Regions from separate parts of the Homo sapiens genome. Here regions 1 and 3 are each linked to region 2. The links come from fine-mapping of genetic effects on gene expression. A gene starts in region 2. Each other region holds a variant in brackets. All regions are shown on one strand. Distances are between the middles of the regions.

The links. PIP is the estimated chance that this variant, and not a neighbour inherited with it, causes the effect.
Region 1: its variant is fine-mapped to the expression of HIBADH in whole blood (TOPMed, PIP 0.98).
Region 3: its variant is fine-mapped to the expression of HIBADH in naive CD4 T cells (Schmiedel 2018, PIP 0.95). The same link has a PIP of 0.9 or more in B cells.

The regions. Positions count from the first base shown.
Region 1 is chr7:27,567,313-27,577,695 of GRCh38, reverse strand. All of the region lies in intron 4 of HIBADH (3-hydroxyisobutyrate dehydrogenase), which reads left to right. Among named protein-coding and RNA genes, the nearest start is that of TSL, 43 kb to the left of the region's middle. RefSeq lists a silencer at 9,002-9,189. The variant G/A (reference allele first, on the strand shown) is at 5,456.
Region 2 is chr7:27,658,410-27,668,792 of GRCh38, reverse strand. HIBADH (3-hydroxyisobutyrate dehydrogenase) reads left to right here and starts at 5,910. Exons shown (of 8, transcript NM_152740.4): 1 at 5,910-6,095. The coding sequence starts at 6,005. The region is part of intron 2 of LOC105375211 (a long non-coding RNA gene); the gene reads right to left. RefSeq lists a silencer at 5,721-6,140 and an enhancer at 5,356-6,173.
Region 3 is chr7:27,754,115-27,764,497 of GRCh38, reverse strand. TAX1BP1 (Tax1 binding protein 1) reads right to left here. Exons shown (of 17, transcript NM_006024.7): 3 at 6,365-6,467. Among named protein-coding and RNA genes, the nearest start is that of TAX1BP1-AS1, 19 kb to the right of the region's middle. The variant T/AT (reference allele first, on the strand shown) is at 4,103.

The sequences.
Region 1 (10,383 bases), 91 kb after region 2:
TGGGGGGATGAAGGGATATATAATCCTTTTAATAACACACCCAAAGTCTTCTCTTTATATTGCGAGCCTTTCTGAAACCTTGTTTTCATAATGAGTGTACCTGGGTTGCAAGTAATAAAAACAAATATATTTATGGATTTTTAAATTGGGTTTAAATTTAACATAAATTATTATTACAAGGATATGGGTCTTTTAAAAAGATTTGTATTCATTTTAAGAGAGAAATGATGCTTGGCCAGGCACAGTGGCTCATGCCGGTAATCCCAGCACTTTGGGAGGCCGAGGTCGGCAGATCACCTGAGGTCAGGAGTTCAAGACCAGCATGGCCAACATGGAGAAACCCCATCTCCACTAAAAATAAAAAATAAGTCAGGTGTGGTGGCGCATGCCTGTAATCCCAGCTACCTGGGAGGATGAGGTAGGAGAATTGCTTGAACCCGGGAGGCGGAGGTTGTGGTGAGCCGAAATCATGCCACTGCCCTTCAGCCTGGGCAACAAGAGCGAAACTCCATCTCAAAAAAAAAAAAAAGAGAGAAATGATGCTTGGAAAGTTCACAAATGTGCTGTAGAAGTAATTTCTTCCGAAAGGTCATTGTTATAGAAATCTCTTTAAGAAAAATTTAAGAGATGAGCTGGATTTGTTTTTTACAGTTGTTAATCTATTGCCTTTTAAGATAAACCTTAGTAATTTGGTATGCATTGAATCAGAAATTGTTGGTGTCTTTGAATTTTAAAATCAAGTATGTTTTCAGTGTGTCCCGTGTGTATAGGCAGTGAATAGATAGTAGCATGACAATTGTATTAATGTTGATTTCATTTCTTATTGGATAGTAAAGAATTAGTGAAGTCAGTTTCTAATTATTAATAAAATACCCCAAACACCCAGCCCCACGGTTTCACAAATAGGTGCTCGATCATAATTTGTTAATGAATGTGTGACACTTGGGTAGAAGCAGGAGAGCTTTTTGGCATTTTGTATTTGCCAGAATATACTTTAAGGAGCTAAGTATAGGAAAAAGGAATATTTCCCTTTATAATGAAAAGGAATATTAACATCTTCAAAGTAATTGCCTTATTTAGGGTAAATAGGTTCTTCAAATCTATGCTGACTCTTTAAGAGAAACAATATAGCATTGGAAAATTATGGGCCACTAGAGGTCACTGTTTAGTAATCAACTTTTAATGAACCAGAACAGTCAGGAGAGCCAATAAATTACAGTGTGGATTTTTCTAATTATGAATTCATATTTAATCATTCAATGACAAGTTAACTTTGGAAATGGTTTTGTGTACTTTGCATATGTGGTTATGCTAATGCACTATTATATTTCTCTGATGTTGGCCCTCCATCATTAGAATAGAACATTGCCAAAGGCTTTGTTATATAATCTTAATTACTAATTATGAGACATAATTAACCTTGTTACCGCCTCCACATCCACACAGTTTTTGGAAATAAAGTTTTACTCTAAATAACAATTACTTTTAAGTGAACATAGGTGTAATGGTTATGATCAGTTCCTCCTCCTCCCTCATGTCTTGTCTTCCTGCTTCATTCTTGGTTTCCGTTGCTCCCATCCCTTTCTCTGCTGTCTTATTTCTTTCCTTCCCTCCTTTGGATTCCTTTTCCACTTTATTTTGTCAGTGATTGAATGTTTCTTCTCAAGCTTTCCAGCCTTGATTCAATGAGTAGAAGAATGTGACTTTTACTGCATATGTTAAAGTAATCCTAGGGTGGGCAACTTGAGCTGAGCCAACCAGCAGTGCAAAGGAAGATTGTATGCATATAAGCAAGCATGCTGCTGCTGCTGTTGCTGCGAGCAGATGGCTGTCTTCAGGCTGTCCAGCCCAGAATCCATTCAGGAAAAAGCAGATTTCCGTACTTACATGATAAAAACTGTTTTCCTCCTTACAGGCTAGGCTAGTTGCTCAAGAGGAGGCCTCATGATCTTAGGGAAAAAACAACATGTGCACATGTGTTTCCTTTTTTTGAAAACAGCCCTGTGCATTATTTCTTAGAAAGCAGGCACATCACACCATTGCTCGGACTTCCTCTACTTCTTGCTGCTTTTACCATCCCTGCTGCTATGCCACTGCTATACAGTTATATCCACCTCACTGTTCTGAGATTTCAGTCTGCCCAAGATATACTTCTGATAAATTGTTCAGAAACTTTCTCTGGTTCCTGATGCTCACCCAGTCCAGCCCAGTCTTCCTTCTCAGCCTGCCATTCAAGGCTCTCCACACTCTGGATCCAACTTACTTTTCCATTCTTATTTTCTGCTACTTCTTTCCACATGCCTTAAATTCTAACCAAACTGGACTATTCACTAATTCTTAAATATTTACCTTATTTACTCAAGTCCCAATGTAGATGCCACCTCCTGTGATCTCTCCTTAGGTAAAAGTCACCCTCCCTGTGAAGCACCATGACAGGTTAGGGTCTCACCTACATTGTAATTACTGTATACCTATGTTCTCAGCTACACTGTAAGTCCAGAGATTCTTGACAAATAAATCAAGAGTGCTAAAATTTCCAATTAAAAAACCTATTTGGCAGAGTATCTGGCTTTCTAATTTTATTCTGGGAAAAGTAAAATAATTTTATAATGCTAAGGTTTGTAATATTAGGGAAGGTCATGGGATATCCTAGAACTCTCATCTACAAAAGATAAGATAAGCCTTTGTCCAATAAGTTGAGCTCTGTCTGAACACATAAGAATAGTAGTCAGCTTGCCCTTCTCGATTACCTGCTTTATAATATCACTGGGAATACAAACAGTTCTCTATTAAATCTCCTAAATGAGAGGAAAATGTATTTTATAATTTAAAATGGTATGTTCATTTTGTATGTACATAGCTCTATTTTGAAGAAATTGAGTTTTGTTAAAACAGTCTTTTGCTTATAACAGCTCCAGATTGCTTGTGTTTTGGTAAAAATAAGAGATGTGGAAGATACATGGATTTTGAACTTGAACTATATTTTGGGGGCTCTTTTCAAGTATTAGTTCCAGTGGCTGAGTACAGTATGTAAATTTCATTATTATTAGAGGGGGAGGTGTGCATAACCACTTTTTTTCTCTATTAGAGCAGCAATAATAAAGTTTTGCATGTCTGAACCTATCTATGTACTTAGTTATGACAGAAGCTAACTTGCAAGCTTGTTTGTTTACAAATAAAAAAGGTAAAGAGTTACCTGTTTGGAGTTTGGAATGTACTTTCCTTGGAAAAAATATTTTCTAATATATTTAGGTCCCTATTATTTTCAACCTCACATATATTGAGAATATCCCTAAATTATAACACAATTAGCATCATATTTCTGTGGGAAATGATTTCAGAGATTCTTCGTGGGATACCAGCCCCTCCTATCCTATCCTTTGAGGAAAAAAAAAATCACCTGCTATCTCTTCCTCCCCTTTTCTAAGCTGTGGGATCTGAAATTTTCTCTGGGGATTCACCTGCTTTTCCAAAATTCCAACTATCTAATTTCTAAAGAGATTTTCTAACTCTGTATTTCCATCACAGACTTTTCTGATTTCTGGATCTGCATTTTTATTTATTGGACTCCTTCAATCAAGCTCATTTTTGGAGTCAAACTTTTTCATTTCAGTAAAACCAGCTCTAGCTCTTGGTCCTCTATAGTATATTACAATTTCAGTTTTTCTAATCTTTTAGGTTCAAATTCTGAAAGTAGCACTGTCCAATAGAAATGTAATATAAGCCACATGTGTAATTTAAAATTTTTTAGTAGTCACATTAGAAAAGTAATAAGAAACACAGGTGAGGATAATTTCAGGAATACATTTTATTTAACCCAGTATATCAAAAACATAATTTCAACATGTAATCAATATAAAATTTATTCAGATACTTCACATTTTTTCATACTAAGTCTTTGAAATATGTGTGTTTTACACTTAAAGCACATCTGAATGTGAACTAGCTATATTTTAAGTTCTCAGCAGCCACATGTTGCTAGTAGCTACTCTGTGGGACAGGACACAGCCTTAGAGAGTCTGCCGCTACATTTTTCTCTTAGCCAGTGACATATTCTGGTTCTGCACTACCTGTCAAAGTTTGTTAAATACATGCAAGGAAATTTACAGAATTTTTCTCGTTCCTTTTTTCCTATACTTCTTCCACTCCTGTTTTTAGAATAATGCATATATCAGCCACTTTGTTAGAATAAGTCATGGTCTTTGCTCTCAAGAAGCTCATACTCTAGTCTAGTCTAGACGATGTCTAATCAGTGAGATGGGCATGGAAAAAGATACTGTGTTACAGTATGGATCGGTAATTGCCATAACAGAGATATAAAGAAGTTCCATGATAAGACGATGATGTAGTTAGGGTCATCCACATTTACCAGATCTGATTGCTAGGCAGTTGCTTTCCTGAAGAAGTAATCCATGTTTACCATGTATTATGGGGCTGGATGAGGACATTCCAAGAAGAGATAGTATTCAAAGTTGAGAATTAGAAAAGGGCATGGCATGTTTGAAGATTAAATGAGAGTCAGTGTATCTGGAGTTTTGTTTGTTCTAAATTCAGCTACTTACAATTTTCTGCACAAATTCCCTACTTTTTTCGCCTTTATGCGTTTGCTTTTGCAGATCACTTTACACAGAATTTCTTTCTCTGTCCCTAGTCGTTTCTTACCAGTATATATAATCTTAATCATCTTTCATGGCCCATATTGATCTGATCTTTTTAGTGAAGCTTCTTTTACTCTTCTGTTGTAGTTTTATGCCCCAAATGAATGTGATATTTCTCTTCTTGGAATTTTGAACATTTTAACTTTTGTATGACAATATTTTGTGTATTAAAGTTAATTTTATAATGCAGTAATAGTCTGGCTCACCAAATCAAATTCTTAATTTGAGCAAGAATTGCATATTAATTATTTTTGTATACCCTGAAGAGCTGAGAGTGGGTTCCTTGTATACAGAAGATATTCAGTAAATACTTGATTCGTGGATAATAAATATTTTTATGAGATATTTAAAACAAAAGCACAAAATTGAAGTGATCTAGAGATTTCAAGTACCTAATGTTTCTTGTAGATTACTTTCATGGAAAGTCTTCATTAACATGATTGACTGCTGTATGTAGTTGGATGAAATTTCTTGATTTCATTTGTAAAAATAGATGTCATAAAAGCAACATTCTGCTGTAATAATGAAGGTGCTAATGGTAAAGATGAAACCTGTTTTATTATGAGAAAACAGTTAAAAGTATCTTGGCATAAAAATACAATGGAAATCACTCTTTACTTTGACATTTAAGGACCTGTTTTGTTTCTTTACATAGCCATCTACTGCTTCTGGCAATATGGTAGACTAGGTATATTAAAATACCCTGCTGCTATAAAATACCGGTGGCTGGATAAATTACAATAAATGTACTTTTAAATGCACTTTACATTTCTCATTAGAGAATGGAGATCTTCAGT[G/A]ACCAAATAATCGAGTAGTAATCTGAAATAAGAATAATAAATAAAGCCAGAAGCTCTGGCTGACCTGGAAGCAAATGCTGATTCCAGAAAACAGGGGCTCTGGACGTTAACATTTGTGAGTAAAACAATCATGGGGTAATGGAAACCTAGGCCCTATGCTCACACAAAGTGAGAAAGCCAACCCTTAGGCCCCAACAAAGCCAAATGCCCAAAGAGGCCATAACTTCTGGGAGAAAGGGTGTTCTATGGATCGTAAGCCTGCTAGTTAAAGAATCTAACTAGGAAATCTGTCTGTCTATGCTGGTTACAGGTTGAGAAATAAAGTATATTAGTTTCTCCTGAATCTTTACAATAGTAGCTCTGAATTTATGGGCATAGAGTTCAAATTTAAATTACTCATCCAATTGGGAAGATACTCAACCAATAATTAAATTTAAGACCTTAATTTGGTAGGGCTAGAACTTGTCATCCATAGAAGAATAAAAATTCTTTCTGGAGAAAATCATCCTTAATCCAGGAATCTTAGAACTCATAAATATCAAGTACAATAAATGTAAGCTCACAGTTAAAAAAAAATTACCAGACACAAAGGGAGACAGGTCACCAGACAAGCCAACAGAAACAAAAATATTCAATCTCTACGAACTGTAGATACTGATGTTTCCAAAACAGAGTATGAAATGACTATACATAAAACATTTAAAGAAATAAAAGATAGCCTGGAGCAGTGGCTCATGCCTGTAGTCCCAGCACTTTGGGTGGCTGAGGCAAGTGGATCACCTGAGGTCAGGAGTTTGAGACCAGCCTGACCAACATGGAGAAATCCTGTCTCTACTAAAAATACAAGAAAATTAGCCGGGCATGGTGGCACATGCCTGTAATCCCAGCTACTCGGGAGTCTGAGGCAGGAGAATCACTTGAACCTGGGAGGCAGAGGTTGCAGTAGACCAAGATCACACCATTGCACTCCAGCTTGGGCAACGAGAGCAAAACTCCGTCTCAAAAAAAAATAAAAATAAAAGATAGATTGAAAATGAATAAGGATCCAGAAAATGTCAGAAATGACCGAATTTAGAAAAATCATTGAAATTTAAAAATTAATAGATAAATGGTATATGGGAGCAGAAGAGAGAGAATTAGTAAATGAGATATCTAAAGAAATAACCCAAAGGTACTACAGAAAGAGTTGGAAATGGAAAATATGAAAGAAAAGTTGAGACATGAATAGAAAGCTAGAAAGAAAAAGTTATGCATGCATCTAATTGGAGTTCTAGATAGAATGGGAAGAGAGTGGTCAACATGATGATATCTGAGAATTTTTCAGAATTGACATAAACCCACAGAAACAGGAAGGACAATGTATATCAAATAGGAGTTTAAATTTTTTTAAAAAAGAAATCTTACTAAATACATGATAGTAAAACTACGCAGTACCAAATACAAACGTGTAAAGCAGCTGGGAAAAAAAGACACATTACCTATAAAAGAACAATACAGACTGATACCATACTTTCTTTTTACTCCCCCCACCGCCCCCAGCATTATTGAGGTATAATTTATATACAGTAAAATTTACCTGTTTGAAGTGTAGAGATTGATGAATTTGGACAACTATATATAGTCGTGTAACCGTCATCACGTTTAAGGCAGAGGGGAGTTTCTATCACTCCAGAAACTCCCCGCATGCTTTTTTGTAGTCAGTTCCTTCCTCAGCCCTAGGTAAACACTGATTTGCTTTCTGATACCATAGTTTTGCCTCTTCTAGAATATCGTGTAAAAATATCATGTAAATATCATGTACATATGCATGTAGAATTCATACAATAGGTAGCCTTTTGTGTTAATAGCAGACCTCCTAAGAACAACTGAAGCCAGAAAACAGTAGAACAATATCATCAAAATACAAGTAACTGTCACCTTAGAATTTGCATCCAACAGAACCAAGAATGATAGTAGGTTCCAGTTGTGGTTAAGATGAAGTAAATATACTGTCCTTTCTCTCCTACTGAATGTGTCTAAAAACCTTGGGCAGAGTGCCTGGAGAAGCTGTCTGAGGACTCTGAAAGGTAAATGATAGCAAATAGACTGGAGAAGGAAAATAGAACTTTTAAGTACAAAAGCTCTGGCAATGAGTTTCCTGGATCCTTTCCCCACTTTTTGTATCTCCCAGTCTGAATTCAAAGACAGCATGAATCCTAGGACTGTGCACAGGTGCAAACAACAAGAATTCCAAGGGAAATTTCTGATCCAAGGAGCAGGAAGAGAGGCTCTATGAGACAGAGAAAGTGGAAGAAATGCTCTGTCTTGTTTTTCTTCCCTCCCAGCTCTGCCATATGATCCTCTCTTCTGAACCTGCAGTTTTGTGGTGGCAGCAGCAGCCAACCAGACACTTAAAAATCCAAGGGAAGTGAATCCTCTCTGATCAGAGGAACTATGGTCCAAACAGTGTAGAATGATTCCTATTGCTTTTTTCTTTTTTTAATTCTCTTGCTGTTTGGCCCCAGAGACAGATCTAGTTGCAGGAAGTACAAGACTTTCTAGTCAGAGGACCGGGTGGCAGTGGGGGATGGAGGTGGGGTAGTAGAGTGTCAGAGAGTGGGGCCCTTCACAGATAAGAGGGAGCTCATAAAGGGACCGCATGATGTTATGTATGAACTTCTGGGCCCACCCTTGAGCCATACAACATAGATCTGACCCTAAACAGCATACCAAGTAGCTGTGGGATAGATAGCCCACCCAGATATCAGGCTGGCTCCTGGCTGATGCACATCTAGGACAGATTCAAATACATCCTGTTCTTCATAGAATTGGAGCAAGACCCAGAGTCTCATAGCATCTTATATCCCAAATGTTCATGATATGATACAAAATTACTTGACACAAAAAGAACCAGGAAAGTCTGATTAAGTCTCAAGGGAAGAGACAAGATACCAACCCTGAGATTACCCAGATGTTTTATATTAGGCAGTGATTTTAAAACAGCTGTTATAACCATGCTTTAAGAAATAATAATCTCAGTTAAGAAAAAGAAGCTATAAAAAAGAACCAAATGGAAATTTTATAACTGGAAAATACAATAATTAGAAATTTGAAGAAAATCACTGGATATGTTCAAAAGCAGAGTGCTTGTGACAAAGAAAAGAGTCAGTGGATTTGGAGACAGAAATTACATGAATGGAAATTATCTAATCAGACTAAAAGAAGAAGACTGTAAGAAAATGGACAGAGCCTTGGGATCCCCTGAGATAATACCAAGAAATATCTAACATTTGTGCCAGTGGAGTTTCATACAGAGATGAGTGTGGTACAAAAAAAAAAATTTGGAAAAAAAAAAAGGTGGCTGAAAGCTTCCCAAGTTTAGTGAAAGACAAACTTAGAGGTTTAAGAAGCTCAGTGAGCCCCAAATACAATAAAGAAATCTATGCCCAGATTATCATAAACTACTAAAAACCAGACACATAGAAAAAATGTTGGCTGGGTGCTGGCTCACGCCTGTAATCCCAGCACTTTGGGAGACTAAAGTGGGTGGATCACTTGAAGTCAGGAGTTTGAGACCAGCCTGGCCAACGTGGTGAAACCCTGTCACTATTAAAATACAAAAAAATTTAAAAAAAAATTAGCTGGGCCTGGTGGCAGTCACCTGTAATCCCACCTACTTGGGAGGCCGAGGCATGAGAATTGGCTAAACCCTGGAGGCGAAGGTTGCAGTGAGCTGAGATCATACCACTGTACTCCAACCAGGGTGACAGAGAGAGACTCTCTGTCTCAAAAAAATAAAAGGCTATTTAAAGAAATAAAATTGTTTGAGATCAGCTAGAAAAAAAAATGATGCATTACAGGGGAACAATGATTGCAACAACTTCAGAAAAAAACATGTAGGCCAAAAGGCCAGTGGAATAACATTTTTGAAGCACTGAAACCAGAATTTTATATGTGACAAAAATATGCTTCAGGAATGAAGATGAAATAGAGATATTCACAGGTAAAGGAAAACTCAGAAAAATTATCTCCAGTTGATCTGCTTTACCAAAAAAAGGATAAAGGAACTTCTTCAGGTAAAAGGAAACTGATACCAGAGAGAACTATAGAACTGCAGGAAAGAAGAGAAACAGAAATTGTAAGCATTTGGATAAATACAGTATTTTTTCTACTTTTAAGTTCTTAAAAATATGTGTGATGGTTGTGATTAAAAATTACCAATGCCCCTTGACTTACAGTGGGATTACATCCCAGTAACTCCTGCATAAGTTGAAAATATTGTAAGTTGAATGTGCATTTTCAACTTAGGATGGGTTTATCTAGATGTAGCCCCATGGAAAATCAAGGAGTGTACTGAATGCATATGGCTTTTGTACCAATGTAAAGTCAAAAAAAATCGTAAGGCAAACTAAGTCGAAGGCCATCTGTAAAACATTGGTGGAATTTTCTATATATGTAAATGTAATACAGATGACAACTATAATATTAAAGGCAGTAATAGTAAATTTTCTACATTTCACTTGATGTGGTAAAATATTAATTTTCAATGGACATGAAAACTTTAGTATGTATATTGTAATCCCTAGGTCAGTCACACACGTGTGCACGCACGCACACACACACCCTATACAAAGATGCAATAGATAAAATGGAATATCAAAGAAATATTCAAATACTGTAATGCAGAAGAAGGTGGGAAAGGAGAAAGAGAGGAACTAAAAACATAGTGGACAAGCAGAAAATAAACTAGTAGACTTAAATCCAAACCTATCAATACTAACATTAAATGTAAATGACCTAAATACACCAACTAAAAGGCACGATATTATCAGATTGGATTTAAAAAAGAGACCAAAATGTGTTTACAAGCAATCCACTTTAAATATAATGATGTAGGTAGATTAAAAGTATAGAAAAAGATATACCATGTAAATACTAGTCAAAACAAA
Region 2 (10,383 bases):
GGGAATCGCTTGAACCCGGGAAGCAGAGGTTGCGGTGAGCCAGGATCACGCCATTGCACTCCATCCTGGGCAACAAGAGTGAAACTCCGTCTCAGAAAAAGAAAAGAAAAGAAAAAAGATAATGAAAGATGTAGTGCATTGCTCAATAGTATTTATGAACATTAACATGTTTGGATATGTTTTATGAAACAGAAACAAAAGAATATAGTTAATTCATTTGATTATATGTTCATATTGAATTTGCATGTTGAGGGCCACATAGTAAGTAAAATAACTCTGAATATAAATTGGGTTGTATGATAATAATAATTGGCAAAATCAACAGATATTTATTTCATGGTAATTAAATTTATTCAATAACCTTTTGTAATCCATATTTACAAGGATCTTGCAATCCAATTACAAGATAATTGTTGACCACAGTCAAAGGTAGACATATAGAACTGGAAAACACACAATTGTTGCTACTGGATTATAATTGCTTCTAGGCCCCCTCAGATGACAGAGCAAAGAGACATGTGTATACTAACCTGTGTCTATATACACATTGATAAATATTTCTATATGTAACCATCTGTATCTATATTAAGTTAAGCATGAGTTCATACTGATGTCTCCAACTTTAATCCATTTAAATAAATGCAATAATATGTACTTAGATTTGCTCTTATCTTAGGACACAACTCAATTATCTTACCGGTGTTTTGTGTTCCAAAATTTTTAAAACTGCCTAGAACAAAGACTTGTCATGCCATCCAAATCTTATGGCTAAGTGACTAAGTTCTGGCCAGTGGGAAGGACAATTGTGGGGTGGGACTTATAGGGAGGCTTCTGAAAATGAGAACAGTTTGCTGACACACCTCTTTCCTTTACTTTTCCCTCCTTTTCTTTCCTCTTGCCTGGAACTCAGACAAGATGGTTGGACCACTAGCAGCTATCTTTGATCATGAAGTAATTATGAGGTTAGAAAATCATTTTAGACAGTAAAACAAAATGAGAAGTTTGGAATTTTGACAACTCAGAGCTGTCAAACTGGCCCTGGTTCTGCCTACATCCACACTACTTTTATGAGAGGAAAAACCAAATTGTTATCATTTGGACTTTGTTTTATCCAACCAAACCTGATGCTGATAGTTTTTGAAAGTGACTTTAAATGTAGTTTCTTAATCAAACTGGATTGTTTTTATGACTGCTTATATATTATTCAGAAAAAGACTTCTTGAGGAAAGTCACTTTGAGTTGAGTCCTAACAAGTGGGGAGTGTAGAAGCAGTATTAGAATGTGTGGAAAAGAGAAAGGAAGGAAAGAAGAAAAGCAGAGAACCTGAGGAACTCAGAGTGCTCTGGGAAAGGGAAAGAGTACTGCATTGTCAGGGAGGTGAGTACAGAGAGAATGATATCTTAGGAATAGGCGTAAAAATGATTAGATAGTGTGGGTATTGTTGGGAAAGTCTTATTCCTCTTCTTCCCAGATTCTGAGATTCTGATGACAGGAATGTTAGATTTTTTTTTTTTGAGACGGAGTTTCACTCTTGTTGTCCAGGCTGGAGTGCAGTAACGCGATCTCGGCTCACTGCAACCTCCTGCTCCCAGGTTCAATCGATTCTCCTGCCTCAGCCTCCTGAGTAGCTGGGATTACAGGCGCCCACCACCATGCCCAGCTGATTTTTGTATTTTAGGTAGACACGAGGTTTCACCATGTTGGCCAGGCTGGTCTTGAACTCCTGACCTCAGGTGATCCACCTGCTTGGGCCTCCCAAAGTGGGATTACAGGCGTGGGCCACCACACCCAGCTGAATGTTAGATCTTTTGTTAAGAGTCACAACACATGCCCCTGAGCTTCGTGGCTTTTTTTTTTTGAGACGGAGTCTCGCTCTGTCGCCCAGGCTGGAGTGCAGTGGCACAATCTCGGCTCACTGCAAGCTCCACCTCCTGGGTTCACGCCATTCTCCTGCCTCAGCCTCCCGAGTAGCTGGGACTACAGGCGCCCGCCACCACACCTGGCTAATTTTTTTGTATTTTTAGTAGAGACGGGGTTTCACCGTATTAGCCAGGATGGTCCCGATCTCCTGACCACGTGATCCGCCCGCCTTGGCCTCCCAAAGTGCTGGGATTACAGGCTTGAGCCACCTCGCCCAGCGCTTCGTAGCTTTTTAAATCCCAGTCTAGTTTCTCTCTGTTTAGATTAGATAGTTTCTACTGTTCTATCTTCTAGCTCAGTGATTCTTTTCTTTATTCTGCTGTTGAGTTAAAAAATTGTATTTCTTGCATTTTTTCAGTTTTAAAATTTCCATTTATTTCTTCTTTATATGTTGTTTCTTTGCTGAGATTTCTTTTTATTTAATTCAAGCATGTTTTATTGTTTTATTTTACTTTTTGAGAAGGAGTCTCACTCTGCCATCCAGGCTGGAGTGCAGTGGCGTGATAGCTCACTGCAACCTCCGCCTCCTGGGTTCAAGTGATTCTCCTGCCTCAGCCTCCTGAGTTGCTGGGATTACAGGTGCCCACCACCACACCTGGGTAATTTTTGTATTTTTTTGGAAGAGATGGGGTTTTACCATGTTGGCCAGGCTGATCTTGAACTCCTCACCTCAAGTGATCTGCCAGCCTCGGCCTCCCAAAGTGCTAAGATTACAGGTGTGAGCCACCATGCCTGGCCTCAAGCATGTTTTAATTGCTTCTTGAAATATTTTCTGATGGATGCTTTCAAATCTTTGTTAGATAATTTTAACTTGTCATCTCAGTGTTGGCATCTATTGTCTTTTTTATTCAGCTTGAAATCTTCCTGGGTTTTGGAATCATGAGTCATTTTTTAATTGAAATTTGGTATCATGAGTGATTTTTTGTTGAAATCTGGACATTTGGGTATTATGATATTTTGGATATTATTTAAACCTTTTATTTTAACTAGTTTTTCTTGACACTGCTCTGGCAGGGGGCATCAACTTGTAAATGGCAACTGGTAGTAGAAGTCTAGGTTCCTTATTCCACCTCTGTTGACACCAAGGGTGGGTGGTTCCTTGTTACTGCTGGGCAATGGTGGGAGTTTCAGCTCCCCACTAGTTGTCCACTGATACTTCCCTAGTTGAGAGGGCTTGGAATGGCTCCTTACTGCCCCCATGTAGCCTCCAGTGACACCATGGAGGGGAAGGGGTGTGACATCCTTACCATTGGGCAGTGATGAAAGCTCTGACTCTCCAATACACCTCCAATTACACCATCTAAGCAGGGAAAGGGAGGGGTACCTCACCACTGTAAGGTAGGAGTGGAAATCCAGGGTCGCCCTGTGGTTTCCAGTGACACTGAGAGTAGGGAAGGATGTGTGTGGAGGATTACTTGTTACTGCCCAGTTGAAGATGAAAATCCCATACCTCTCTTTGGTTTTCTCTGACATCACCTTAGAGGGGTTGAGGAGTAGAGCGATTGGGGTGTTAGGATGCTGGGGTGTCTCATCACAACCTGGAGAGTGTGGAAGTCTAGGCTCCCAACTCAGCCTTTGCTTTATGGGGTGGGGTCAGTGTGTGTATGTATGTGTGTATTGTTTGTCTACAGTGGAGTGATTATCTTCTAAATGTTTCCTTTCTTGCTAGGCCACTCCTTTTTCATCACTTGGCTAGAAAGAGCAGCCTTTTATTGGGGCACTTTTTGTCTATCTATGCTTCCTGGCATTTTGGGGTTTCTGGTTTTGGCTTCTCCAGCACCCAGTTTGGGGTATATAAGGCTACATGAAAACCCAAGGAACTTCCCACCGTGTTGCTCTCTGGACCCTAGCCAGTGTGACTTCTCTCCACCTTTCAAAGTCTCCCTATGTTTATCTTATATATAATGTTGAGTTTTTAGTTGTACTTAGAAGAATAGGGAGAAACCTATCTACTCCATCTTCCTGGAAGCGGAAGTCAGGGGCCACTATAAGGCATTGAAACAATTACAAACAAAAATGCGTGGCAAAGACTCAGGGAGGAGTTGCAGTGCCTTTCAAACAAGGGCATCAGGAGGGCAATCAAATGAAGAAAGCTAACCAGCCATAGGCAGGAACTGCATTTGCCAGTACAATAATATCTGCAAGCACCTTCAAACAGTAAGAATTACTTAAAAATTCATAACGCTTCTTTAAAATCATGGAAACCTATGAAAATTCCTTAGTTTATGAATCAATGTAGGGCTTCTTGGAGGAGACATTGTTGGAGAAGACAATGCAGGGCTTCTTGGAGGAGACACAGTTGAAAGACCAATTGCAGTTCAGGAGTTAATTATAGAAACCTGTAGTGCTGGAGGAAGAAAAAGAAAAAGAAACCTGTAGGCCCACATTTGTTGCCTGCAGGAGATCTATTCCAGCTAAAACCTGACGAAACCAGGAAGAGAGGCACAGGTGGGAAATGCTCCAGAAACTAATTTACCCCTAGTAGGGGTGGGGACCCAAATCTAGGAGAAGGTCTAATTGTTGAAATGAGTTTTTTCTCCCTCCCTCCCTTCGTCCCTTTCCTTCCTTCTTTTCATTTAGTGTTGGGTAGAGGGTTGGGGTGGAGTGATGGTCAAAGAAGGGCATTAACTTCCTCCCAGTTACAGATAGGGACCTTGCACTCTGTACAAGTTTTTAAGTTTTTGGAAACGTTGCCAGCATGCCCAGAAACATGAAAAGAGCCCAGATGGAAATGATCCAATTCCTTTGCTTTCAACTCCATGGGTTACTGAGTTGAAAAAAAGGTCAAAGTCAAATTTTGTTGATTGTGCTACTTAGATTGGGGTTCGCATTTCCCTAGCTACTCCATACACATTCTCTTTCCTGCTGTATTGCCATTCTCCAAAGGCTATAGTCTTGCTTTGGTGTGGTCATGGCTTCCAACCCTTTGGTGGAGTCAGTGGAGATGAGAAGGCCTGCAATTACCCCCAAGGGGTTTACAGACTCAAATATGTACACTAAGCATTGACAGAAGAATGACTAAATGTCTGTCTCTCTGCACCGCGCAGTGGCTCACGCCTGTAATAACCAGCACTTTGGGAGGCCGAGGCGGGCGGATCACTTGACGCCAGGAGTTTGAGACCAGCCTAGGCAAAATGGCGACACCCCGCCTCTACTCAAAGTGCCAAAAAAATTAGCCGGGTGTGGTGGCGCACGCAGGCCTATAGTCCCACCTCACCTACTCCGGAGGCTGAAGCAGGAGAATCACTTGAACCCGGGAGGCGGAGATTGCAGTGAGCCGAGATCGCGCCACTGCACTCCAGCCTGGGTGACAGAGAGACTCCGTCTCCAAAAAAAAAAAAGGTCTTTCTAATACACATACATATACTACTACTTTCTGGATTTTATATTTAGTTTTGCTTACAAAATGGATTTAGGGTGTAGAATTTTCAAAGATTAGAGAAATATGCCTTGAAATAGAAAGTGCAAGTTTCTAGTAACTCTTCCCTTCAAAGATAATGTTACCAACTTCTTTTCCTACTATTTTTAGTATTGAGAAACTGTTGTGTTAAGTAAAATCAAATGAATTTAAAAGTTATTACACACATGGTAGCTTTCTGAGTGTTTTTCAAGCTGCGAGTCAGTTTTGTCCTTTTTAACACGCAGCGGTTGTGGGGACAAGGTTTCCGAGGAGGCGGGAGCGAGCGACGGCCCCCGCCTCCCACACGCCCTCTGCTTTGGTAAACAAGGAGACTCCCGCCCGCAGGCTGTAAATGAGGCACGAGCTTGGGGGCAGCGCCAGGGCGCCTGGCGTCACTGTTCAAAAAGGCCTCTTATTGGTCCTTCGCACAGCTGCGGACCTGGGAATTCTGATTGGTCTGCTTCCCTGTCCGTAAAGGGATTGACAGGCCCTGCCGCGTCAGGCCGCTCCTCTCGGCTCCGCGCTCCTTCCCTCGCGCGTGGGCACCCGCCCCCGAGCGGTGAGAGCGCGTGCGCGCGCGCCCTTCTCCGTGGGCGAGCCAGCCAGTCCCGCTGCACACGCTCGCAGTCTGTGGGCCCTCCGGGAGGCGGCGGAGGTCACCGCGGGGAGAGGGGCGGGCGCAGCATGGCAGCCTCCTTACGGCTCCTCGGAGCTGCCTCCGGTCTCCGGTACTGGAGCCGGCGGCTGCGGCCGGCAGCCGGCAGCTTTGCAGCGGGTAAGGACCTCACGCCTCCTCCCCCTTGTCCTTCTTTCGGCCGCTCGCTTCTTCTGTCCAGACGGCCGAAGAAGTCTTTTCTCGGGAGGCCCTGCGGTTGGGCTGGGGCTTAAAAAACAATATTTTGGCTGGTACTAAAGGCCTGTCCTTTTCTGCGGCCGCCACTCACTCCGCGAGTACCCCCCTCTGCCTTCCCTCCCTTTCTCCCGGGCTCCTGATGAACGGGTTCAGCGCCCTTTTCGGGATTTAGGAAGAGGTGGGGAAGAGCTTGGGCTGAAGAGAAGAGAGTATTTGGGACCCCGGCATGCTGCTTTGGAGTTAGGACTCCGAGGACGTTTGGAGCGCCCAACTCCAGGAGCAACCCGCACTCACCCCAGCGACCCCTGGTCTTTCAGCGCCCCCAGGGTGCACCTTGGGTTGGGGACACACTTGGGCAGCAGGGCCTGATGTTTAACCACCTGAGTCCGAGGGGATGGCCTTATTACACAAGCGGTGGCTGTACAAGCCAGGCAGTAAGTCTTTCAGCAAAGTTTCAGTCACCCTTGACCAGCAAGACGGGCTTCCCCCCTCTACTGTAACCTAAAAAAATGTCATTTTTGTCAAATTATGAACCAAAACACGTTCAGCGTCCTCAAGATTGTGGGCAGAATTAATCCTGCCTCCCTCCTCTCATACCATGGTAAATTGTGGAAGCTAGCCATGAACTTACAAAGAGGCAGTTTTTAGAGCCAGGATGAAGATCCACGGAGATCTAATACAGTCTTTCATACTCCGCACGAGGGACATGAGGCCCCTTGGATGAGTGAATCAGGATATTCCCAGCAAGACCTAGAAAGTTGTTATCAGTTGTTCCTAATTCCTTAACTTTCTATCACACCAGGACTCCTCTTTAATTGAAAAATTGGTTGATTTGTGGGGGCACTGCCGTTGTCTTCCTCAAACTGAAAGTTTGAGAGTTGTAACAATGCATCGTTTAGCAAGATCATACTGAGGATTAATAACAAAAAAAACCTTGGCATTAATTTTTTCTAATCTTTGCTTAAAAAAAAAATAGTGGGTTAGGATTTGAGCCCCTTGGCCCCCCGCCCTTTTTTTTTTTTTTTTTTTTTTTTGAGACAGGGTCTCTGTCGCCCAGGCTGGAGTGCAGTGGCCCAGTCACACTGCTCACTGCAGTCTCGACCTCCTGGGCTCAGGTGATCCTCCCACCTCAGCCTCCCGAGTAGCTGGGATTACAGGCATGTGCCACCACGCCCGTCCAATTTTTGTATTTTTAGTAGGGACGGAGTTTCGCCATGTTGCCCAGGCTGGTCTTGAACTCCTGCGCTCAAGTGATCCTCCCAAAGCGTTGGGATTATAGGCATGAACCACTGTGGCTGGCCAGGAATTGTAAGAACTTTCTCTTACAATTCTTAACAGCTTCCCATTCTCCCCCTCAGTGAAACCTCTGAATTTCCTTTCTGGCTGGAGAAGAACAGAGGCTCGGTGAGATGCAAGAGACCAGATGTCTGATACAGAACCACAGTAACAAGATAAAAACTCAGAATATGCCAAACTTGAATGTAACCACTGTTTGAGCTTCATATATTGAGCTACAAAAATGCTTCCGACTTTTGAGATAACCCTAAAAGAATAGACACTTTTCCACAGTAGCACCAGTTTTCACATGAATTCACAATTCTTTCAGTTCCCATTAGCCAAGGAAGACATATTTGCTGTTTAGTGGTTTTACAAGGTGTTCTAATGGTATTTTAATGAACCCTTGATGTACCTTTTAGAGTTATGAAAGTTCTTACCAATTCATGGTGAAAGAGCCTGAGGCCTAAGACTGTAATACGTGCCTCTGTAAACTGGGAGGGCCTACCTCAGAGTGCTGATTAGACTACTTTGGCATATGGTCTTGTACTTTGGGTTCTTTGGCCCAAAGGTAATTGTCAGAATATAGATTTCTGATAAATTTTAAATAGTTCTTTTGTGATGAAGTGGTTAAATCACTTAAGCAATTTTTTTTTCTCTTGAAAAAAATTTTTTTTTTTCCCTCGGAGTCTTTGTCTGTCGCCCAGGCTAGAGTGCATTGGCGCAATCTCAGCTCACTGCAAGCTCCGCCTCCCAGGTTCACGCCATTCTCCTGCCTCAGCCTCCGGAGTACCTGGGACTACAGGCGCCTGCCACCACGCCCGGCTAGTTTTTTGGTATTTTTTAGTAGAAACGGGGTTTCACCATGTTAGCCAGGATGGTCTCTATCACTTGACCTCGTGATCCGCCCGCCTTGGCCTCCCAGAGTGCTGGGATTACAGGCGTGAGCCACTGTGCCCGGCCTTTCTTTGGAATTGTTTTAAACATTTAAATTTCTGTTAATTTTAGTTTACTGCAAAAGTGTTAACTTTTCTGACATTAGATTCTTAAAGAGTAGAAAAAAATCTGCCTGCAAGTTTGGAGTCAAATGACATTAAGAAAAAGAACCATGTTCAGATAGTAATGTGTGATGTTCTGAATTCTGTTGGATATTTGTAGTATGTTTAAGATGTTTATATCATATGAATGATAATATTATAAGGAGCTATATAATTTACTGTTTAAAAAAATGAAACCTGAAAGTTGCCGGTTAGTAGCACATCTTTTTAACTTTTTTATAAATACATTTTAGAGACAGGTCTCCCCGTGTTGTCCAGGCAGGAGTACAATGGCACCTACTTAGCTCACTGCAACCTTGAACTCCTGTACTCAAGTGATCTTCCGCCTCAGCTTCCCAAGTAGTTAGGATTGCAGGGTGCACCACGATACCTAGCTAATTTAAAAAAAAATGTTTTTTGAGACAAGGCTAGTTGCCTACTACGCTGGTCTAGAACTACTGGCGTGAAGCCATCCTCTTGCCTTGACCTCCCAAAGTGTTGGGCTTACAGGCATTAGCCACTGTGCCCAGCCTGCCACATCTTAATTTTTAAATGTTTGTTTGTTTGTTTGTTTGTTTATTTGAGATGGGGTCTCTCTCTCTCTCTTGTCCAGGCTGGAGTGCAGTGGTGCAATCATGGCTCATTGCAGCCTCAACCTCGTGGGCTCAAGCAATCCCCCTGCCTCAGCCTCCCAAGTAGCTGGGACCACAGGTGCACACCACCACACCTGGCTTTATTTATTTATTTATTTTTTTTGTAGAGATGGGGTCTCACCATGTTGCCCAGCCTGGTCTTGAACTCTGGGGGTCAACTGATCCTCCTGCCTCAGCCTCCCAAAGTACTGGGATTACAGTCATGAGCCACTGTGCCTAAGCCTAATTTTAAAATACTTAAAGCATTGAAAAGGAAATAGAAGAATGAGAAATGTTAAAGTGTACATGTATTACTATTTCATCACCTGTTTGATAAAATTGTGTATGTTATTTTAGAAGGTAATTAAGTTTAGTTTCAGACTTATTTGTACAGAGAAGAAAATCTACAGCTATAGGCCCTCTACAAAATGTCACGTTGTGACTCTACAGCTTGTACATGGAAAAATAAATCACATCAGATCATCTTGAGGTGACCACCTGACCAAAGGTAGAATGGAAAAATTAGCATCATGTATAGAAACAGGAATACAATTTTTAATATTATTGGTCCTTTTTGTATATGTGAAATTTACTTTCAAAGTAGCATAACTCATTGGATAAATCAAATATATAATGGCAGTTTTTCCCTTTACATTAGCTTCTAGGGCTGCACATGAAGTTCTGAAAAGCTGCTCATGGTCCGGGGCCTAAAAGTTGACCCTAAACTTGTGAAATTACATAAGGAGCGTATTTATTACTAAAATAAGTTGACTGAAACCGTAAAGGCCTTTATAGAGAAAGTCGTCACCCTTAGTTTAGTAACTGTTAATAGTAAAGCAGATAGAGTGCTTATGACGTAGTATTATGTGATAAAATAGATATAAAAAATGTATTATGTGATAAAATAGACATACATTGTATAGAAAATATAACCTTATGATATAATGAAAAATGCAGTCAAAAGACTGAAAGTCCATGCAAAATGTTTTTTTTATTTTTGTGTAATGAGATTGCTTCCCCTTACAACTGTATACTTTTTCATTCTAGTTTTCTACAATGAAAATGCATTACTTTGAATAGAAAAGAAGCCTCAGAAATGTAAAATAATTAACTTGTTACCAATTTTTGCATTTTGACACTTAGTGAAACCTGCTTTTTGATAGCACTTAAGGTTATCAAGATACGGATAACTCCCCTTGTTACATTGGAGAAAGAGGTCATAATCGGTAAATTTGCATCTATAAATTTAGAAACAAACTTTGCCAA
Region 3 (10,383 bases), 96 kb before region 2:
ATGGACATCACATACTCCCTGATAAAATGTACTGAGAAAGGTACAATACTGTTTCTATGGCATTCTTCCCAAAAATGCATAACTTCAATCTAATCATGAGAAAACATCGAGCAAAACCAAGATGAGAGACAAGCTACCAAAACAAACAACACCACAAAATGCTAACAGTACTTCACAAGAAAGTAAAGGTTATGAAAGATAAGGAGGAAACCAAGGAGACTAAGACAACATGACAATTAAATACAAAGAGGAATTAAAGACTGGATCTAAGAACAGAAAAAGAACAGTAATGGAAACACTGGTGAAATCTGAGTAAGGTTTGTACTTTAGTCAATAGTACTGTACCACTGTTAAACTATTGGTTTCTTAAATAAATGTACCATGGTCATGTAAGATGCTCACATGACACGAAGATGGGCAAAGGGCATACAGAAATTCTGTGTACTACTTTTGCAAGTTTTCTTTACATCTAAAATTACTTCAAAATACAAAGTTTAAATAAATATCATAGACATGTATCTGGCAACATACATTTTTAAAGATTTTAAAAATCCACCCTCCTAATAGCTACTAAAAACTTACTAATTCATACCAACTTCCAAATAGCCACTAGGCTTATTTAAAAGCTTAACTAGAAAACAAATATATAGCATAATTAATCAGCTCTGGCATCAAGACATTAGAAACTGTACAAACTAGGTATTCAAGGTCTGATTCTTTTTTTTTTTTTGAGACAGAGTCTCGCTCTGTCACCCAGGCTGGAGTGCAGTGGCCTGATCTCAGCTTACTGCAACCTCCACCTCCCTGCTTCAAGCAATTCCCCTGCGTCAGCCTCCCGAGTAGCTGGAATTACAGGCACACGCCATCACGCCCAGCGAATTCTTTTGTATTTTAGTGGAGACGGGGTTTCACCATGTTGGCAAGACTGGTCTTGAATTCCTATCCTCAGGTAATCCACCCGCCCCGGCCTCCCAAAGTGCTGGGATTACAGGTGTGAGCCACCGTGCCCGGCCTCAAGGTCTGATTCTTTAAAAAACAAAAACTTCACTAAAATAAACTGCTAAAAAATATGGTTCAAAACCATTTGAGATAGACATAATTATTCAGAGCTGCAATTTAAAGCTGCCTGGAAAAACTTGTCAGATGGATACTGAAAATAAAATGGGAAAAAGTGAAAACTAAATTTTCGAGTCAAATTTTACAGACTGTGCCTTTAGTATTCAACAAGATTATAATAAATAAATAAGGGTTCATTTAGGAAAACAATCACGTTTAGGTATTGTTAGATGTTTTGGGTTTTGCATTTCAGGATTCTCATTACTCATCCACAAAATGAGCAAAGTGATTTGCATTATGCTTGAAAGCCCTTCTATAACTCTAATATTCAATGACTAAGCTTTCCCTGACTTCCTTATATAACAAAAAAGTTCTAGGCACGGAGATGCTTTTATTTCTGAATTTCAAAATTCAAAATAAAAATGAACTGTTGAATTTTCAGAAACTTGTAAAACATATTGCATTTAGGCTTAGTGCCCATGAATTTTTGAGACAGGTTCTCACTCTGTCGCCAAGTCTGGAGTGAAGTGGTACAATCTCGGCTCACCGCAACCCCAGCCTCCTGGGCTCAAGTGATCCTCCCCACCTCAGCCTCTCAAGTAGCTGGGACTTTAGGTGTACACCACCATGCCTGGCTAATTTTGGGGGTATTTTTTGTAGAGATGAAGTTTTGCCAAATTGCCCAGGCTGGTCTCAAATTCCTGGGCTCATGCAATCCATCCTCCTTGGCCTCACAAAATGTTAACATTAGAAGTGTGAGCCACCATGTCTGGCCCAAAAATGTTTTTAAAGTATTAACAGAAATAAACTGGATGCTTTTCTCTACTTTTTAACCACTTTTAAACTTACTCCTAAGTCCCTAATAAACAAAAGCAATAGTCACTATAACAAATTGAATAAATTTTTTTCAACAGATGGAGTCTCACTATGTTGCCCACACTGGTCTCTTAACTCCTGGTCACAAGCCATCCACCTGCCTCAACCTCCCAAACAGCTGAGATTACAGGTGTGAGTCACCACTTAAAAAATAAGTTAACCTGGCAGTTAACTTATTTTTTAAGGGGAAACCAATCACAATAAAAATGACTAAAAATAAACCAACAGCTTTCAGGAAAGAAGTTTTAAATGTAACAAAACCGGTTCCAATACACACCTAAATTTTATTATCTAAAAAAGGCTATTAAAAGATAAACTACATATATAACTTACAACATTTCCTTATCCAAAAAACATCTATGAATACCTAAATCATTGCCCATATTTCACCACAAGTTTTATCCTCTGCATACTGGTTTCCTGGCACAGAACAGAAGGAAATTTCTTTATATATGCAAGTTCCATGAACTCACATTGCCAATTAATGTTTAGACCAAACATATGCAAAATTCAGAATAAAGTGAAAAAAAGTTTTTAAACAAACAGACCACCAAAATCCAAAGCAATGACACCATCAAATGCTGCTGAAAATGTGGAGCAACAGGAACTCTCATCATTCATTGCAGGTAGGAATATAAAATGGTACAAGCCACTTTGGAAGACAGTTTCGCAGTTTCCTACAAAACTGAACATGCTCTTATACAATTAATTAATTACATTCCCTGGTATTTACTCACATGAAATGAAAACTTACATCCACACAAAAACTTGCACAAGAGTGTTTATTGCAGCATTATTTGTAAGTGCCAAAACGTGGAAGCAACCAAGATCTCCTTCAATAGATTCATAAACTATGATACATCCATTCAATAGAATATTAATCAGTAATAAAAGAAATGAGCTATTCAAACCACTAAAAGACATGAGGGAATTTTAACCACATGTTGCTAAGTAAAAGAAGCCAATCTGAAAAGACTACATATCGTTATGATTCCAACTCTATGACATTTTACGGCAAAACTGTGGGGACAGTAAAACATCACTGGTTGCCAGGGTTTTACCAGGAGGGAAGGAGAGATGAGTTGGTGGGACACAGGAGACTTTTAGGGGAGTGAAGTTATTGTTCTTTATGATACTGCAACAGTAGGTATATGTCTTCATACATTCATCAAAATCAACAGAATTTACATCACACAGTGAACCCTGATGTAAACTATGAACTCAGACAATAATAGTGTATTAATATTGGTCCATCAATTATAACAAATGGAGCACACAAGATGTTAAAATAAAGGAAAGCAGGGAAGGGTGGTGTAAGGGATTGCAAGAGAACTCTACTTTTCATTCAATTTTTTCTGTAAACCTAAAACTGCTCCAAAAAAGTATGTTAATTTTTTAAAATTAAACTATCTGAAGCTGATTAATCTGAGCCTAGTTATTTTAGAAGGCTGCTCTGCACATGTCACCAAAATCCAAGTCAGATATTGCCTGATAAAAAAACAGGACATTTTAACTTAGATAAGACCATATCAATTAGATAATGTTAACAATTATTTGCTGAAAACTGTCTGCCATGCCACTGGTTCCCAAACTTCTACATAACAGAATCACCTGTTGATCTTTTCAAAATTCTAAAACCCAGGCCATACCACAGACCAATTAAATCACAACATCTGGAGGTGGGACATAAATTTCTGTGTGTCTTAAAGCACGCAGGATTCCAAATTAAAGTTAAGTTTGGAAATCACTATACCAAAGCTATGTGCATAGGCTCCAAGTTATGCTGCCCTTAAAACAGGCTGATGCTCTCTCTTAGCGACTATAACAAAAACTGACTGAAACTCAAGGGAGGGATCACTGTAAAAATTTTTCAGCCAGGTGCGGCGGCTCATGCCTGTAATTCCAACACTTTGGGAAGCCGAGGCGGGCGGATCACAAGGTCAGGAGATCGAGACCACCCTGGCTAACACGGTGAAACCCCATCTCTACTAAAAATACAAAAAAAATTAGCCAGGCATGGTGGCGGGCGCCTCCGGTCCCAGCTACTTGGGAGGCTGAGGCAGGAGAATGGCGAAAACTAAGGAGGCGGAGCTTGCAATGAGCCGAGATCGCGCCACTGCACTCCAGCCTGGGAGACAGAGCAAGAAGCCGTCTCAAAAAAAAAAAAAAA[T/AT]TCTAAAATAAATAATACTAGAAATGTTTATCCCAAATTCAAACTGTTTTTTGGTTCCTTTCTGAAGTAAGTATTTGCATGCTAACAAAGTATTTTCATTAAATAAATATTTTAGTATAGTTTGGTTTTTTAAAGGTTTTTCTTTTAGTTTGTTAAAACAAATTTAATTTTTAACATTCTGAATATGGTAAACCAGATCAGATAAGGGAGAAATGATTTGGGGTTTCATTTTAAAGATTTAGGGCCAGGCATGGTGGCTCACACTTGTAATCCCAGCACTTTGGGAGGCCGAGGCGGGTGGATCACCTGAGGTCAGGAATTTGAGACCAGCCTGGCCAACATGGCAAAACCCCGTCTCCATTAAAAATACAAAAATCAGCCAAGCGTGGTGGTGAGCACCTGTAGTTCCAGCTACTCAGGAGGCTGAGGCACAAGAATCGCTTGAACCCAGCAGGCAGAGATTGCAGTGAACTGAGATCACACCATTGCACTCCAGCCTGGGTAACACAGTGTGACTCCGGCTCAAAAAAAAAAAAAAAAGATTTACAAAATTTTAAAATTGCATTAAAATATGTGAAAATGTGTGAGACAATAAACTTTATTTTAAATCATTCATCTCATAATCCTGAGCACATTTTTTTAAAGTAGTGATTCATACAATGTAAACTTCTTTCTGCTAACATAAGAACATTCTTAACAGAGCCCATTGCTTAAAGATATGAGAAACCCAGAGGAAAAAGTCTTAATTATTAATAGCCAGCCCCAGGGGAAAGCAATAAAGTCCTAGAATTTTTTTTTTTTAAACATAAAGGCAAATAAAGTTCTCAATAGCAAAGAGGCAGTTTTAGGGAATGTTCAACTTGGGGTTAAAGGATACAGAAAATTCAGGTCATCCATCAACTTTAATGGAGAAAAACATTATATTTTTATTTTTACTAACATCTAACTAAAATTTTAGCATGTACTTTGATTACTATCAGTATTTGTGATTTTTGTCACTAACAGGAATTACTTATATGTTAATACCACATTACAATTGTTACAGGTATCTCAATGTTATCTTACTTGGAAATCATGGCAGTGATTAAATCTGCCAATAAAATACATCTTGTTAACACACAGATTTTGAAGCACATGTATTAATATATCAAAAATTTGTTACTGTGATATTTTAATTATTTCAATATAATTGGTTTTCTTTGCAATTTTATGTCTTATTTTATATACATTAAAATATTATTCTGAGACAGAGTCCATAAACTTCACCAGACCAAAAGAAATCTATGACATATACAAGGGTAAGAATTCACTTTAATACAATCCTAAAGTCAGTACAATTATAATACAAAATTACTCTGCAGCAAATTCTGTGATAGATCTCTGAATAAGTGTTATTTTTTTTTCAAGTTTTTAAGTTGTGCTAAAAAACACATAAAATTTACTATCTCAAGCATTTTAAAGTGTATAGTTCAATGTTAAGCACATTCATATTGTTGTGCAACCACCACCACCATTATCTCCAAAATTGTTCTCATCTTTTAAAACTGAAACTCTCTACCCTCATTAAACAATAACTCCCCATTCCTCCCTTGAGGGAACCTGAATGCCCTGCAGACCACCATTCTACTTTCTGTGTCTATCCCTACTCTAAGTACCTCATATAGCGGAATTATGCAGTATTTTTCTTTTTGTGATTGGCTTATTTAACTTATCATAACATCCTCAGTGTTCACCCATATTGTAGCATATGTCAGAATTACCTGAATAAGAGTATTTTTTAAATTTTGTAAATAATGCCAAGCTAACACAAAAATGAATTTTATATTACTTTATCATTTTATAATAAAGGAACTTACACATGACAGAATTCAAATAACTATAAGTTCTGTTAATCATGTTTGTGGTTTGCATCTGGACTATTTTCCTCACCTCTTTTTTGTTACATTATTCTAATATCTGTTATTACTATTGTATTGTTTTCTCACTTGAAAAAAAAAAATCTCCAAAAATTAGTACCTAAAAAGAAACCCACTCTTCAGTGAAAGTTAAGACAACAACCAATAACTTTTAAATGTCTACATAAAATATCATGTGGCCTACACCAGACAGTTACATTCTTAGGGCTTTTGCTAAGTAAAGACACTAACTAATTCAACTTTGGTACCCTGGAGATACCTGAACAAATCATTACAATGGAGTACAACATCTTTAATGGCAATAAGACATCTAGTTTCATTGAGTTCTGCAGTTTTCAGTCCTTACCTTGGAATGCTAGTACACAATTGACTGTTGATCCTTCCACATAATGTTCAGGCATAGGGGACCATAAAAACGTGTAATAATCACGAGCAGTACTCCATCCAACCTAAAGGGAAATAACAAAAAAGGCGGATTTATAAGCAAATAGTTTAATATTAGGCTCATACAGCATACTGTTTATTTATTGTATTTTACAGTTAAAATATACATTTAATATGTTTACAAATCATGAGTATTTTAACAAGCATGTCAAATTATTTCTAAATTAAACTACAGCCTAATGCTATAAAAATCTACATAAATTGAATAGTAGAGTTTCTACTATATTAAAATGCAATTTGCTATCCAATTTCTCAAGGATAATCTAACTATCCATATGATCAAATATAAAAATGTGTTTTGATTAAAATTTAATTTCACTAAACACAGTGAGTTTTTAAATACTTGTTATTTATTTTTTATTGACCACAGAGTATTATTTTCAAAGGTGGCACATACTGAATGTCTAGCAGATCCAACAACTGAGGGAGTTATAGACTAAAGAAAATTAATATTTAAAATATTAGACATGCATTACAAATTCACCTCTGAAGAATTTTCACATATATCAAAATTCAAAAAACTTAATTTATACCTCCAATGTAAGTGTTTTATTTGTTTTACTTAGACATCTGCCTCCCCCTAAATCCACTAAATTCACTAATCTCTCATCTTTGGCAAGTCTTGCCTGCAGCCAATTGGCAAATTTTGTAAAAAGACCTTTAGCACCAAGATGTTTATATATGCACAAACAGACCACCCATGTCTCACCTAATGCTAACACATTTTCTACTTACAACATGAATATATACATACCTCAATCTGTATTTTCCAGATGGACTAAATACCATGTTAAATATTGAAAATTGGAGATGTTTAAAACAGGTACTAGATATCCATTTGCTAGGAATATTACAAAAATTTATGCATCAGCCACAAGGTTAGATTATCCATGTTCTATGATTCTGATTGGCCTGATTGTAGACAACAGAATACTGAAGCTGGACGAACCTTAGTCACCTTTAGCCTCCAAAGGAATGGTTGAAACTACAGGTTACAAACCCAGTAAGAAGTGATAAAACCAATTTAGTGGTTCATGACTGGCATTTATTTTGTAATTATATAGAAGAGAAAGTACTGGAGTATATTAAGGGTAAGTGTTTCATGAAATTTAGTTTCTGGTGTATCTGCATGCTGGGACAAATCTTACAATTTACTTTGTTCTGTGTCAAGGTAAAAAACATTTGACACTATTCATCTCTTTACGGATATGAAACCTGAGGAATCAGTGAACAAGTCATTTACCTCACCTGTTTGAGCCCATTTTTTTCCTTTCACAGTTGTTGGAAGAATTAAATTAGGTAATGAACCTAAAAGCAGCATCTGAAGTGCCTAATCCATGGCAAACACTCCATGAATGGTAGTTATTATAGGTGTAGTATTTTGTAATAACTAAGAGCATAGGGTGTGAGGTCAGAATACCAGAAAAGATAATTTGCTAGCTGTATGGTTTTGGAAAAGTTATTCATTTCTATTTTCTCCTCTGATAACAAAAACAGTCTCAAAAGGTTGTGTCTGTATTAAGTGAGTTCATCCCTGTATTTAGCACAGTGCCTATCACATAAGTGCTTGTTAGCAGCCTGAGAACTGAGCCTACCAAGAAGTTGGGGGCAAGATACAATCCTGAGTAAAAAGTCAGAAATATAGAACTACACTTCAAATTGCTTTTGAGTAAGGAAAACTAAAACTAAACAATAGTTCTTAAGTTACTTAGAGAGGGGCATGTTGGGCATACATAAAAAATAAATGTAGAAGTCTCTCAACCTGGAAAGATACAGAGAATGGGCTCCTTTGGGATGTAACTGTCTTATATCTAAGCTCCCACATGAAAGTATGCTAGAGTGGATAATACTGGAAGGAACACAAAAGATGAACATCAGGAAATTATGCAGGAGTCCACTGCAATAATAATAAATCTAATTAGAAGGGTCAATAAACCATAATGTGTCCAAACCAAAGGTTGATTCTCTGTTTTATTTTCCTGGTCACCGGGCTAGAACTTGCTGCTCAATGCTACAGGACACACTGAAATGCAAGAAATCTTGTCTTTTAGTCCACCATTACCAAGTGTAAAGAAAATTATTACACTTAAAGTTAATAACAGCAATTTTCAAACATTGAAAAATGGCAGGGAGAACATGGCAACACTTTGGACAATGGGACAAAATACCAGTTATATAAAACTGCCAAAATACATTGCTTCTAGGAGATATACCTGAATCTAGTTAACCAGTTAATTGTAGTCACAGATACCACTGGAGGCTGTATGTATGTTAAGAGAGAAACTAAAGCAATGAATATGTCACATACTTTAGTTTGAAGAATTACAACAGCAGTGGGCATCATTCTTGTTACTACTGCAACAGCAAAATAAATGAGAAAATGGAAATTAAACAAGGGTGACAGAGAAGGGAGAAAGCCACAAAGTGTTCCTTTTAAATAGGATTAACATTTCAGAAAAACATGTTGGATAAGTTTTGATCATAAAGGAAATTCTGAGAAAGAACATACAGAAGACCAGAATAACATCAAAGTTACCTAGAAAAACATCAAGATAATAAATCCTGGAGAAACATTGAGAAAAAGACAGAAACATTAGGTTGAGGAAAGCATATGAGACACCACTTGGAAAGAAAGAAAGAAATAGAGAAGAGGGGACTGATGTTTGGAGATGAATAAAGGGAGACAAGCCTTGGAGTAGGAAAGGCACTGAAAATAAATGAGCTGATTACATATGGATATAGGAGGATTCCCAAGAAATATAATTAAGTGAGGAAAAACGCCCACAAAAAAGTATCAAATGAGCCTATGAATTTTTCTAATCCAGAAACATACAACAACAGACATCACTGGGGAAGGTAGGAGTACAATGGGTAGAAGCATTCATTTTCCTTCTTCTGTATACAATGTAGCTTCTAAAAATCATGTTACTAGAAAAGTTCCTTTAGGAAAAAAATGACTGCAAAAATGCCTAGATATACACAGGGAGTATGCAACATTGATTCAAAAGAGAAATATCATAAACAGCATAAATTCCTCAATGAGATAAAATGGTACAGAACTAATTGTAAGTGATTAAGTGAAAAAATCACGGCATTAAAAAAGGCATGAGATATGCCAGCAACATTCAAAATATATGCATTAGAAAAAAGACAAGCCAGGTGGGGTGGTTTACGCCTGTAATCCCAGCACTTTGGGAGACTGAGGTGGGGGGATCACGAGGTCAGGAGATGGAGACCATCCTGGCTAACACGGTGAAACCCCGTCTCTACTAAAAATAAAAAAAAATTTAAAAAAATTAGCCGGGCGTGGTGGCGGGTGCCTGTAGTCCCAGCTACTCAGGAGGCTGAGGCAGGAGAATGGCGTGAACCCAGGAGGCAGAGGTTGCAGCGAGCCAAGATCGCACCACTGCACTCCAGCCTCGGCGATAGAGCGAGACTGTCTCAAAAAACAAAAACGAAAACAAAAAACAAAAAAGACTGAAAGTCTCCTTCCATTAATAAAACAAGGCTGGAAGGAAATACTTAAAACATTAACAGTGCTAACCATTGATATTAATTAGGTAGGGATATACTTGGGTAGTGGGACTGTAGGACATTTTAATTTTATAATTATAAATAAGTATAATTATAAATATTTATATATTATATATATTATAATTGTAATTTTTTTTTACAACCAGAGGACTTTTTTTAAAAACAGAAAATGAGTGGAATGAGACAGGACTGAAGGGGAGACCAAGGCAGGAAAAGAGAAGAAGGAGGAAAAAAATTTGAAAAGGAAAAACAAGGAACAAAGAAACAAAAGCTTGAAACAGGATATTCAAGCATAAAATCACTGTTTGGATCCACCTTCTAATCAGGCAACTTAGTTTTTGATGTGCTTGACAGCAGGATGCAGTGAAAACAGTACCTTACAGGGAG